Linked DNA regions of Homo sapiens. The protein of the gene in region 1 purifies or fractionates together with the protein of each later gene. This does not show direct contact. Each region holds a gene or a part of one and is shown on either strand. Other genes may lie near its edges.

Region 1 (3,589 bases):
CTCCTGACCTCAGGTGATCTGCCCACCCCATCCTCCCAAAGTGCTGGGATTACAGGCATAAGCCATCGGCCCCGGCTCATTCAAGTTTTAAACATTATTGAGGGCTTATGATATGTCAGGCACAATAGCATAGGTCACTTTATCCCCATTTTTAGAAAAAAGCCTCACAGAGGCTGAGTGATTTGTCAAAGTGACAAAGCTTATAGTGGTGGAGAATGTTGGTTCATGGTATTCCTTGCTCTTCATGAAATCTGTCATGGGCCTGAGTACCTTGTTTGGACATGTGTTTTTGACCTGCCTGCATTCTTTGAGGTTAAGGCTGTCTTACACAGCTGGAATCCCCCTTGGTGCGTGAAACCATCTGCTGTAGTGGACACACTATAGCGTTGTTGATGGATTGTTCATATGGCCAAATCCTTGCCACCTTTCCCTCAAGACCTGTCTCTCCTTCCCAAACCCAGGAAAAAAATCACCCAAATAAAAACTAAGCTGACTTGATCTGGAGGAGGGGGTAATTTATTTAATTTGTTGACTCTGGCTTACAATTTTGTCTTCTGTTTCCATATCTGGGTCATTAGAAGCCCCTTCAATCCCATCATCCCTTTTCCCTTCAAATCAGGGCAACTCAGAGATAGCTTTCTTGGCTGGGGGGCCTGTTGGCTTTTCCTTTTCTCTCGCTTTTTCCTCATACATCAGGATCCTGGTTGAGATGGGAAGAGGCACAGGGATCAGGGAACACTCCTCTCAAGGGAATAAATCATAGGGTGCTAGGAAAGGCTAGAAGGGGATGGGGATGTGAGGGTGGAAGGGGGAAGAGGAAGGGCAGGGGTTGGAGTTTCTGGGGACCAGGACTATGGATAGGGATGGGGTCGGGACCTTGGAAGGGTCCCTCTAAGGATGGAAGAAGGGATGATGGGCAACGTGTAGAAATGTTGAGCCTGTGGACAAGGGTAGGGATGGGGGAGGAGAAAACAGGTAAGTACAGGGGAGGTTGGAAATTGACACTCACATTTTTAGGATGGCAGATCTCTTGCCCAGCATCATCCTGAGAAAGTCAGGGTAGCTGAACGTCTCCCCGGAGCCACTGGACACCTCTCCAATTAATTTCTTTAGCTCTAGGTGAGTCTTGGGGACTCCAAGTTTCTCCAGCATTCGTTTCAGGGACATGATATCTGGGGGCAGAGGATGGGGATGGGGAGAAGGTGGGGAGACCCTCTCTCTCCTCTCCCACTTCCGCATCCCCATTCTCCTTCCTCCCACTGTGGTAGGTGGGCCCCCTCCCAAATCATGAGGAATGGAGCATGTAGGAGAGACCTCTGTCTTCTTAGGCCTGCACACCACCCTGCCCCCGCAAATCACCCGTTTCTCACCAATATCGCCATTTCCATTAAGGTCAAACTCCATGTATTTCTCTGGGTGAGGGGAGAGAGCAGAAGGGATAAGCGCTGACTGGAGGGTTTTCAGCAGGGGACTGAGGAAGGGGTTGCCAACCAACTGCTAGGTGGAGGAGACAACGTGGAAGGAGGAGGAGGGGCAGGCAGAGGAAGTGGGGTTGGGGAGTTGAGGGGCCCCGCTAGGGTGTAAGGAGCTAGAGGGGATGCTGAGAGAGGCAGGCCCGGGAAAGGGACCGCAGTGTGGCAGGAGGGCAATAAAGGCAGGTTCCCCTTTTGCTACCACAAAAGTAAACTTTTTATCTCTGCTGTTCCTGCCTTGTTCTTGTGGAAATCCTAACCCTCCTACCCCCAGCCCTGTCTCCACCGCCTACAGTTTCCCCCTCACCTTTGAAGCCTTCCAGTTTGGAGGGCAGATCCTCATCACTGCTATATTTGGGATCGTCTAGGAATTGCTATGGAGGGGAAAATAAGAGCCAGGGTAGGCCCTCCCCATCCACGCCCCATCCCCCTGGCTCTGCCCCCTTAGTTCTTCCTTCTACCTTGTTGATCTCATCCAGCCTCTCTTCCTGCTGGGCCTTCAGCAGTCCGAAAGCTTTTCCTCCTGTGGGGTGAAAAAAATTAATCAGCCCTCATCCCTCCCTTCCTCTCCTTACCCTGACACCAGCCCGGGCTACCCTAGGCCAGCTGACTGCCCTCCTAGCCCACAGCCCAGGTCTGTCCATCTCATTCCTCCGATCTAATGCCGCTGCCTATCCCACCCTCCCTACCCTGTAAATCCCTGGTTTGGCTCATAGCTCAGCAGATGCTGGTAGAGGTGGGGAGACAGACCAAGCTGGAGGCCTCTGTCTGCAGGCTCTCCTTCTCTCCCACCAGTCTTCTCAGAAGCCTTCCTCCCAAACTTCCCCTTTCCCCTCATTCCTTCCTCCTCTGCCTCCCAGACCTCACTTCCCCATCAGGTTCTGCTGACACTAGCACCCCAGGAAGGAGGGGGAGCCTGGTGTGAAATGCAGATTAGAAAATAACATTCTCCCAAATTCCTCTTAAATGAGAGCCCAGTGTGCGCATGAAACAAATATTTTGATAAGCCACTGGAGGTGTGCAGGAAGGGCAGGAAGACACCAGGGATATTTATTCTCAGGAACTAGTATTTTTGAACAGGTCCAAGGTTCAGGTAATGATAAGACCTTGCATTTTGTCAGGTTTCATGAGTCTGGGCAGGCAGCTGTGGATAGGAAGACAAGGAAGGGCTGGCTGAATTTTTCTGCTCTGTAGATCGGAGAAGAATCTGAAGTCTGCTGGCAGCTCCAGGAGGGTGACAAGATGGGCACAGGGTTTAGAAAGGGAGAGAAACCTCACTCCCAGCCTGGCAGCTCCAAGGAGGCCCTTAAAAATATGGAAATGTCTAACAAAACATTTTAATTTGTTTGCTTTAGAATGTGCAACGTAACCCTCTCATCTTATCTCCTTTGAAATCTTTAGTAAAATCTATAGAGATCAGGAATTTAAGAGTTTAAGTAGATTCTTTGGAGGAACTGAAAGTGGTACTTAAAGAAACAGCGTTTGTGGACAGAAGAGCCAGGGAGTGAGGCTGACATCAGGTTTGCACACTGCACGTGCGTGCACACATGCAGGCATGTTTGTGTGATGGTGGTGCTGGTCACTGTGGGTTCAACAGAGTGGATGATAGCCTCTGACACATGCCTCCCTAGGCATAACCTTTATCCCCTCTGTCACTCTGTTTGGCCAGTCGCTTCTTGGAGAGGTGAGGACAGCACATTTCCCTCATTGAGATTTCCTGGTCCAAACTCCCTGCCCAGGGCTCCATCTACCCTGCCCCGGCATTGATGAAGACACCTTTCCTTCTCCCTTCCCCCCAACATATTTCCTTTTCTGTAGCTGGGAGTTTTCACTTCTCACTGCCCTCTCCCTGACCCAAGCCAGGTAGGGGAGATGCTGGAGTGGCCTCTGGCTGCTGCTGCTGCTTTTTTTTTTTTTTTTGAGTCGGAGTCTTGCTCTGTCGCCCAGGCGGGAGTGCAATGGTGCAATCTCGGCTCACTGCAACCACTGCCTCCTGGGTTCAAGCAATTCTCCTACCTCAGCCTCCTGAGTAGCTGGGACTACAGGCGCCCACCACCACGCCCAGCTAATTTTTGTATTTTTAGTACAGATGGGGTTTCGCCATGTTGGCCAGGATG
Region 2 (3,500 bases), on another chromosome or scaffold:
CCTTGTCCGGGGTTCAGAGGGGGAATGCGACCTTGTGCTCCCTGCTGCCCTAGGCCTGGTATCAGGGGTGGGGGGCCTGTGCTCTGTCCTTCCTGAAAATATGTTTTTAAAGTAAGGGTATGAAATCACAGGCTTGAGCTACATAAATAGTGATTGCATTATAACATGACAAGATAAAAATACCCAGTAAATATTTACCTAGTAAGATTACAGTAACATTGTCCTTAAATCAGGAGAAAGGAGATACTTCTTTTACTATAATAATTTTTTTAAAGCACCTGTATTTTAAACCTGTTGACAACTTTTATGTAAAATTAGATCTTTACTCGTAATGCCAAAAAAGAACATCAATGGAAAGTCAGAAATTCTAACACAGCAGCACTAAATTAAACCAATTAAAACAACTGGTTTAAGTAACTGGTCTGGTTAAAGTGAAGCAACTTAGATTTCAGCATATGAGAAATAAGAGCACAGATTTTCATCAGGCAACTTCTGAGATCTGAAATGCCCTACAAAGTATCAGATCTTCAGACTCATTCTACCAGTATTTCTATAGGTCAATTAAAATTTCAGAATCATGCTTCCCATGTATAAAATCTTTTACTACATGGTACAATAAAAAATCTCATTGAATTATCCCAGAAACTCAGGCATGTCCTTGTGACTCTGACATGTTTATAAATATTTCAGTTATAACACAGTAGCTAAAGTCCATTATTTTTTTAATCCTCCAAAATGAAAACTGTTAATTTACTACCAGAAAGTTAGGAAAATAACTTACAATAAATAATATTATACACACATACAACTGAGCAGTAAATTAATAAAATATATAATACTTCAAGTTTTAGGGCAATTTAGAATGGCAATCCTATACTTAATTCATCCTAACTTCTGAGAAGTGCTGAATAAAAATCTGGAAATAACTCAGACATCATCAGATTCTCCATGACTACGACACTTTTAGGTTCTGGAAGACCTACTTTAGAATAGTAGATAATTTATTTGTTTTAGCTTAGTAGTTGAGTTCAGGAAACCCAATGGTCATCTTTACATTAGGGATTCGTGGTGGTATTTGAAAAACCAAAACAGACTGTGCTTTCTACATCTGTAGCATCCCCTTTCTCCAAGTGTCTCAGGGAGTCAACATTAGCTGACTCGCTCACTTTTGGTCCACACTGGACCAAAAGTGAGTTTTCAGGGACAAAACTCAGTTATTCATACCCAAATAATGCCTCCAGACTAAGAACTTGAGAAAAGCATAAAATGCACATAGCTGAGCAGTATTACATCTATTTATGCTCATGCAATTCTTTTCGTAATTCACTCCCCCAAGCAACCTGAACTTTCCTCACACCATCTCTCAAGCACGAGCTCAGCGCATGAGCAATAAAAATTGGCTAACAAAAACAGAATCCTCAAAGAAGGAGAATTTCTACAGAAATGCTCCCCCCTGCAAATACTTTTATATGTGAGCTGAAAACAACTTGAGCAGAGTTTCATCCAAAGGGTCACCATTTCCAGAATGCTCAATTCTGGAATAACAGTCTCTTTATTTCTATTCACTGTAATAAACAGAGTGAGGTACAGAGTCTATAGTATACTCATGAGTTAAATATCCCATCCTATCTTTTAAAAGTAGAGTTGGCAGACAGGAAGTGATTCTGTGGCTGGCAGGCCCATGGAACACCAGGCTGCAATGTAAAGGGCCCAGAAAGGAGGCATGACAGCCTCAGAGCCGACCACCATGTAAAACATGCTTCCTCCTCAGGGCCACAGCTCTCCTGGAGCCCTGGGACAATTATCAGCTGTACTCAAATGAGAGTTGACCTTTTCTGAAGAAACTCTATTACCAAAAAAAGAAAAATGGTGAGAAGTAAAAATGAATACTGAGATGTACTTAATGGGAGTATAACCTAACTCATCATTCTTATGATTTCATTCTTCAGCCAGGATGCTAGTATCTTAAGCTACTGTCACTACTTGATAAGTATTTATATCCAGCTGTGACCATTTTCCACAATACTCAGCAGTATTACTTCTGTGCAGAGTGTATTTTCCCAATGTGCCCGTGAGTTGGAAATGAATAATACCTGGTTGAAGGGGGCCCGGGGCCCATCACCTAGCAGAGGCGTTTTCTGTTGCTGGAATGGTATTGGCCCTTGAGATGGATGTGGCCCTCTTGCTGGGTTCTGCTGTCCCTGAGGTCCGGGGGGTCCTTGCATGCCACCCTGGGGTGGAGGTCCTAAAGAGCCCTGGGGCGGCCCCTGCTGACTTTGTGAGCCTGGAGGCCCTCGCAATTCCTGGGGAGGTCCCAGCATTGATCCTTGGGGTGGAGGCCCCTGCATGCCTCGGATCTCCTGAGGACCTCTCATTTCCTGAGGGCCGTGTCCCAGTAGTCCACCTGGAGGGTGAGGTCCTCTCATCTCTTGAGGCGGGTGGCCCATAATCATCCCTTGGGGAGCAGGACCCTGGTTCTCCCGGGGGCCTGGAGGCCCCTGCATTCCTCTTGGATTCAATCCCATCAGAGGTCCCTGAGACACAGGACCTTGGATCCCTTGAGACCCTGGTCCGCCTTGGATCCCATGAGGATGAGGAGGCCCTTGCATTCCTCTGGGACCAGGTGGTCCCTGCATACCTTGAGTACCCGGAGGCCCCTGTGGGCCCAAGTGACCCTGAGGGCCAGGCGGGCCTTGGGGGCCTATGTGACCCTGTGGGCCAGGTGGACCCTGAGGACCCATATGACCTTGAGGACCAGAACTACCTTGTGGTCCAGGTGGCCCTTGAGGTCCCAAAGGGCCATGAGGTCCAGGATGCCTCTGCATTCCTTGGGGCCCATGCATGTCCTGAGGCCGTGGCAACCCCTGGGGCGGGCCCTGGGGCCCCTGTGGTCCCATGAATCCTTGTGGCCCCCCACCTCCCTGATGCAGTGGAGGACCTTGTGGTCCCATTTGTCCCTGGGGTCCAGGAGGCCTAAACTGTCCCTGTGGACCTGGAGGCCCCATTTGAGCCATGTTCATTGGCATCTGCTGAGATGGATGGGGCTGTTGAAAACCTTGAGGAATCTGAGACATTGGACCTTGTCCTGGAAAAGGCTGGGGTCCGAGGAGAGGGGTGCCAGATGAGGGAGGAGGCTGAATTTGCTCAACTTGTTTCTGTGCAAGTCTTTCAATTTTAAGTTGCTGGAAAGAAAGAAAGAAAAAAGCATGTTGAATAAACAGGCCAGAGCCCTTGAAGATGACAATATTGCTATCATGTATTCTGTTAGGGGACTCTCAAACATAAAAACTGCTCAAACTCTTCACGCTCCAGTGGTAATTAGAGTCCATGCAACACTCAAGCACTGTAAGGAGTTTTAGGTTCTTTCTCATTCTTTTTAAGTCCTGGGACACAGTAGTAAGGATTTTTTTTTCCTTATTTTTTTTTTCTGTCCCCCAAGCTGGAATGCAGTGGTACGATCGTGGTTCACTACAGCCTCACCCTCCTGGGCTCAAGTGATC
Region 3 (3,500 bases), on another chromosome or scaffold:
CCCATCTCCAAAAAAAGTGCAAAAATTAGCCAGGTGTGGTGGTGCACGTCTGTTGTCCCAGCTGTTTGGAGGTTGAGGCAGGAGGATCACTTAAACACAAGGCTGCATTGAGCTATCATTGTGCCACTGCGCTCCAGCCTGGACAACAGAATGAGACCCTGTCTCAAAAAACCCCAGAAAAACAAAGGAAGCCCCACTTGCCACAGGAACTCCATGGGCAGAGTGATGCCCGAGGGTGGAGATTGGCTCAAGGAGAGTCCCTGTGTCAGGCACACCTGCAGGGGCGCTTCACTGACCATGAGCATTTTCATTACAAACGTGATTTTCCAAATACACTGCAAGCAGACGAGCCGTTTTACTCTAAATGACATGGTGCAAGTTCTAGTGTGTATGGAAATGTTCAGCCAGTGAAACGGCTTTGCGGTGCAGTGGAAAGATGAATTCCTTTTAGAAAACAGTATTAACAAAGAATAGAATGTAGGGAACAAAACAAAACTTGGAAGAAAATAGAGGTAAATTCTTAACCTCTGGGAAGGGAAGAAGACTTTGTATGCTTAAAGTTGAAGGATAAAATGTAGAAGAATTATGAATTGACTAAGATTTACATTTTTGTACATAATTTACTACAAACAAATGAAGCAATAAAACCTTGTAAAATATTGTCAACAAAAGGTTAACATTTGTAAACAAAAGATCTCATTCAAATGAAGATCACTTTAGTGCATGTGCAGAGAATATGAATGTTAAAGTGGTAATAGCCCAAACGAGTGTCAAATTAGCAAATGTTTTGAAAAATAGATGTGGCTGGAGTATAGTAAAAGCAGTTTGGCATTTTGCATCAGATTTCATGAAAATGAAATCTGTAATTTCATTTCCAGAAAATTAGCCTTGTAATTCCATTTCCAGAAAATTAGCATGGAGTACTAAGTACAGGAAAAGCTCAACAAATATTTTTTAAGCACCGACTCTATACCAGACCCTTGAGTTGCTGGTGAGGGCTGCAGTGGGAACGAGAGAGATAACGGGTACAGCCTCTTGGTCAAGCAGGGGAAGGCTGACATTCAGCATCTAAATACAGAATAATAAGTTATTTCTATGCAGTTGTAATAAGTGCTCTGAAGGGTAAAGGATACACACACATATACTGTACAGTATTTTTAATTTCAACAGTTGGAGACAATATAGCTTATATAAATTAACCATACAGTTAATGTGTATCAGTAGTACATAGTATATATAGTAAAATGTCAAAGACAGGCCGACAGGCAGGGTGCAGTTGCTCAGGCCTGTAATCCCAGCACTTTGAGAGGCCAGGGTGGGAGGATTGCTTGAGCTCAGGAATTCAAGGCTAGCCGGGGCAACATAGCAAGATCCCCATCTCTACAAAATAGTAATAATTATTCGGGTGTGGTGGTCTACTCCTATAGTCCTAGCCAGTTGGGCAGCTGAAGTGGGAGGATCTCTTGAGCCCAGAAGGTTGAGGCTGCAGTGAGTTATGATGACATCATCATGCCACTGCACTCCAGCCTGGGCAACAGAGCAAGGCTCTGTCTTAAAGATATTTATTGAGAGTTATCGCCCATAAAAATGCTTGAGATAATAGCTTTAAGATAAAACTGGGATGCAACTCTTCAGGCCAGAACCATTTGGAAGAAAAGATTGAAAAAAGAAAGCACTAGAATGTTAATGCATGGTTATGTTTAGGTGATGGAACTTTGCTAAATTTCTTCCTTTATACTTTTTTCTCTTCCCAAATCTTGATGAAAATGTACTGGTTTTATAGTAAAGGTGGCCATAAAGATATGTATTCAGGCCAGGTGCTATGGCTCACACCTGTAATCCCAACACTTCTGGAGGCTGAGGCAGGTGGACTGCTCGAGGCCAGAAGTTTGAGACCAGCCTGGCCAACATGGTGAAACCCCATCTCTGTCAAAAATACAGAAATTAGCCAGGTGTGGTGGTACACGGCTGTGGTCCCTGTTCTTGGGATGTCACAGAACACCAGAATTGTTCAGAGAAGCCACAGTGTCTTTACCAAGAGTCCAGATAAATAATTTATCTTGAGCATGCTAATCAGAGGCCATGCCTGCTACTAAGATTCACTGTGGCCTTAAGAAGATGTGGCCCAGCTGAGACTTCTCGCTTCCTCAGTTGTGTTTTCTGCTTTGGTCTCCTTAGCGACAAGACTCTGGGACGATGAAGAAGCCGCACACCACTGAAGAGATTGGTGTGCCCATATCCAGGAATGGCTCCACCCTGGGCCTGAAGTCCCAGAACGGCTGCATTCCTCCAAAGCTGCCCTCGGGGTCCCCTTCCCCCAAACTCTCCCAGACACCCACACACATGCCAACCATCCTAGACGACCCTGGAAAGAAGGTGAAGAAGCCAGCTCCTCCACAGCACTTTTCCCCCAGAACTGCTCAGGGGCTGCCTGGGACCAGCAACTCGAATAGCAGCAGATCTGGGAGCCAAAGGCAGGGCTCCTGGGACAGCAGGGATGTTGTCCTCTCTACCTCACCTAAGCTCCTGGCTACAGCCACTGCCAACGGGCATGGGCTGAAGGGGAACGACGAGAGCGCTGGCCTCGACAGGAGGGGCTCCAGCAGCTCCAGCCCAGAGCACTCGGCCAGCAGCGACTCCACCAAGGCCCCCCAGACCCCCAGGAGTGGAGCGGCCCATCTCTGCGATTCTCAGGAAACGAACTGTTCCACCGCTGGCCACTCCAAAACGCCGCCAAGTGGAGCAGATTCTAAGACGGTGAAGCTGAAGTCCCCTGTCCTGAGCAACACCACCACTGAGCCTGCAAGCACCATGTCTCCTCCACCAGCCAAAAAACTGGCCCTTTCTGCCAAGAAGGTGGGTGTGTGGGGGTCTCGCCGCTGCTGTGTATCAGGAGAGCTCCAAGAGTTGCTTGGTTGTGGTTTGAAGGGAGTGAGAACATTGTCCGGGGGCTTTGGCCTCCCTCATGTTAGAGGAACAAAGTGTCTTTTAGTCGTTCCCAGCCATTTGCAATTAAAGAACGGCTATCTTGGGGTGAAGGCAGTATGGGGTGTTGAGAGAGCCCTGATCTGGTGATGCTCATGTGACTCATGGAGGTTTGGGCAAGGTAGCAGTTCCCTGTTTTCACAGTAGGTGGAAGATCCTGACTGAACCCGAGGGAGGGTGGGCCCCACCAGCACGTGTCCCTAGCAGGGGTGGGGCGGGCAGGAAGCGCAGAGCCCCAGTGGGGTGCCCGGCACCTCTGCAGCAGGAAGCTTGGGCAGCCACGGCACGTGGATGTGATTGTTGTGCTGAGATTTTTGTTTAAATTTTCTTCCTTTTTTTTGTTTCTAACCAAAAATACTTTTCTGGTTCTTCTTCTACCATTCCCCTGCCCCTCACCTCCCCTTTTTGTCTTCTTCTGTCTCCTCATCTTTTTTTCTGGGCTCTTTTGTTTTTATTTTCATTTTTTGTTACTTTTGTTTTCCCTCTTCACTCACGGAAACCTTTTTTAGACCACC
Region 4 (2,739 bases), about 11 Mb from region 1:
ATTGGTTCACCCACTAAATGATCTTGTCATCCTTGAGGGGCCCAGATTTAAGTGGGAGGGGTTTCTGATCTGACTTCCCAGTTGTAGATGCCTTAGGCTTTATTGCCTATCCCAATATGTGGCCCACTAAAAAGTAGTTCTAGGCTACCCACAAATCCCACATAAAAGCAGAGGCCTTAAGGCCGGAACGGTGGCTCAACGCCTGTAATCCCAGCACTTTGGGAGTCTGAGGCAGGCAGATCACTTGAGGCCAAGAGTTTAAGATCAAACTAGCCAACATGGCAAAACTCTATCTCTACTAAAAATACGAAAGAAATTAGCTGGGCTTGGTGGCGGATGTCAGCTACTCGGGAGGCTGAGGCACAAGAATCACTTGAACCTGGGAGGTGGAGGTTGCAGTGAGGCGAGATTGCACCACTGTACTCTAGCCTGGGTGACAGAGCGAGACTCTGTTTCGGGGGGGAAACACAAAAAGAAGGCCACAAAAAACAGAATAAAAAGATGAGTAAAGAGAATGTTTATGAAGTGGCTCCTACATAATGTCCCAGCCCTGGGAGTCACGAACAGACTCCATGGTTTTCATTGGCCCCTCTTCTTCGGTATCAGAATCCCTGGTTTAAGGCAAGGATGAGAGAAGAACACGAGGACGCAATGAACCAGATTCAAGCTGAGGCTGTGTGGCATGGCAGAAGGCTGAACTATTCTTGTGTAGCCCTAGGGATAGTCCAAGAGCCCTCTAGTCTTCTCTGAGGCAATGAGATTCAAGGGCAGCTGTGATCCTTGCCCTTGAACGGAAACCAGCCGTGGCCAAATCTGTCCTCACAGATCCATGTCTCCCTGGGGCAGTGGCAGAGCAGAGGATAGTTCCTTATTACTCTTTGCTCAAAGGGAGATGTCTCCTGTCCTTGCCTGCATTTCGTCGCCTCTTTCGACTCAAGAAGTTCTCCAATTTCTTGCTGCGTTTCAGCTCCTTGAACTTCTCAGCTAGTGCCAACTGGCGCTGCTCAGCTAAATGACAGGGAGAATGAAAGTTGGTGAACAAAGAAGGAAGCCCCTATTCTTTCCCAAACCAGGTCAGTAACTCCAAGCCATTATGCTGGATACATGAGTTCTTTAAAGCTCACTGGTGCCCCTCTATCTTTTTTCTGAGACGGAGTCCTGCTCTGTTACCCAGGCTGGAGTGCAGTGACGCGATCTCGGCTCACTGCAACCTCCGTCTTCTAGATTCAAGTGATTCTCCTGCCTCAGCCTCCGGAGTAGCTGGGATTACAGGCGCGCACCACCACATATGGCTAATTTTTTTGTATTTTTAGTAGAAACAGGGTTACGCCATGTTGGCCAGGCTGGTCTCGAACTCCTGACCTCAGGTGATCCGCTCTCCTCAGCCTCCCAAAGTGCTGGGATTACAGGCGTGAGCCACTGCGCCTGGCCAACGGGTGACTTTTTTTTTTTGAGATGGAGTCTCACTCTGTCACCCAGGCTGAAGTGCTGTGGCACGATTTCAGCTCACTGCAACCTCCGCCTCCCAGATTCAAGCGATTCTCCTGCCTCAGCCTTCTGAGTAGCTGGGATTACAGATGCACAGCACCACACCCAGCTAATTTTTGTATTTTTAGTAGAGACGGGGTTTCACCATGTTTGCCAGGCTGGTCTTGAACTCCTGACCTCGTGATCTGCCCTCCTTGGCCTCCCAAAGTGCTGGGATTACAGGTGTGAGGCACTGCGCCCGGCCCAACTGGTGACTTTTTTTTGTTTGTTTGTTTTTCCTGTGAGATGGAGTCTCACGCTGTTGCCCAGGCTGGAGTACAACAGTGCAATCTAGGCTTTCTGCAACCTCCACCTCCCGGGCTCAAGTGATCCTCCTGCCTCAGCCTCCTGAGTAGCTGGATTACAGGTGCACGCCACCAGGCCCGGCTAATTTTTTTATATCTTTAGTAGAGACAGGGTTTCACCATGTTGGCCCCCAGGCTGGTCTCGAACTCCTGACCTCGTGACCCCCCCACACTGGCCTCCCATAGTGCTGGGATTATAGGCGTGAGCCACCGTGCCCAGCCCAACTGATGACTTTTTATATGATCTCAGTACTACTCAATTCAACCAACTATGAACACCTATGTGCCTGGCCCAGCGTGTGTGCATGTGTGTGTGTGCAGTGTAGACCAAGAAACAAAACTGATTGTGTGTGTGTGTGTGTAGACCAAGAGATAAAACTCTGTGTGTGTGTGTAGTATAGACCAAGAGATAAAACTGATTGTGTGTGTGTGTGTGTGTAGACCAAGAGATAAAACTGACTCTGTGTTTGTGTGTGTGTGTGTGTGTGTGTGTGTGTGTGTGTGTAGTGTAGACCAAGAGATAAAACTCACTGTGTGTGTGTTGGGGGGGGGGGGTTGGGAAGTGGGGAGTGTAGACCAAGAAATAAAGGTGACAATGCCTGCCATGATCTAATTAGGGATACAAGACTGGTTACAAACAACTCCCTACTATTTCTACTTTCCTCCAAGTTACCATGGGATCCAGCCTTCATGCCTTCCTTAAAGGGGATCAGGGACACCCCAACACAAGACTCTACCACCATGGCCCCTGCACCCCTGTCCCTGTTAGCAACAGTTGTGCCCAACTCACATTTTTTCAGGAAGTATGGCCGATGGCCCTGCTGGGCCTGAGCCCGACGTTCTTGCTTCAGGGCCAGGTGCAGCTCCTGCTGTTGCTTTCGTTCCTGCTGTGCCATTTCTTGCTGCT

Evidence for each region. The genes of interacting proteins can lie anywhere in the genome.
Region 2: the proteins of AIF1 (region 1) and WDR33 purify together in Homo sapiens (affinity purification with mass spectrometry; one large-scale study listed by BioGRID and IntAct). This does not show direct contact.
Region 3: the proteins of AIF1 (region 1) and USP36 purify together in Homo sapiens (affinity purification with mass spectrometry; one large-scale study listed by BioGRID and IntAct). This does not show direct contact.
Region 4: the proteins of AIF1 (region 1) and RRP36 purify together in Homo sapiens (affinity purification with mass spectrometry; one large-scale study listed by BioGRID and IntAct). This does not show direct contact.

What each region holds. Positions count from the first base shown.
Region 1 is NC_000006.12:31,613,927-31,617,515, reverse strand, and holds AIF1 (allograft inflammatory factor 1), read right to left. Parts: upstream 2,283-3,589; 5' UTR 2,187-2,282; coding exon 2,162-2,186; intron 1,996-2,161; coding exon 1,934-1,995; intron 1,847-1,933; coding exon 1,780-1,846; intron 1,526-1,779; exon of another isoform or gene 1,413-1,525; coding exon 1,371-1,412; coding exon of another isoform or gene 1,173-1,370; coding exon 1,010-1,172; coding exon of another isoform or gene 1,006-1,009; intron 701-1,005; coding exon 616-700; 3' UTR 501-615; downstream 1-500. UniProt on the Homo sapiens protein: Actin-binding protein that enhances membrane ruffling and RAC activation. Enhances the actin-bundling activity of LCP1. Binds calcium. Plays a role in RAC signaling and in phagocytosis. May play a role in macrophage activation and function.
Region 2 is NC_000002.12:127,717,172-127,720,671, forward strand, and holds part of WDR33 (pre-mRNA 3' end processing protein WDR33), read right to left. Parts: intron 3,183-3,500; coding exon 2,094-3,182; intron 93-2,093; coding exon 1-92. UniProt on the Homo sapiens protein: Essential for both cleavage and polyadenylation of pre-mRNA 3' ends.
Region 3 is NC_000017.11:78,806,315-78,809,814, reverse strand, and holds part of USP36 (ubiquitin carboxyl-terminal hydrolase 36), read left to right. Parts: intron 1-2,178; coding exon 2,179-2,856; intron 2,857-3,494; coding exon of another isoform or gene 3,495-3,500. UniProt on the Homo sapiens protein: Deubiquitinase essential for the regulation of nucleolar structure and function. Required for cell and organism viability.
Region 4 is NC_000006.12:43,027,361-43,030,099, reverse strand, and holds the end of RRP36 (ribosomal RNA processing protein 36 homolog), read right to left. Parts: coding exon 2,623-2,739; intron 1,009-2,622; coding exon 872-1,008; 3' UTR 501-871; downstream 1-500. UniProt on the Homo sapiens protein: Involved in the early processing steps of the pre-rRNA in the maturation pathway leading to the 18S rRNA.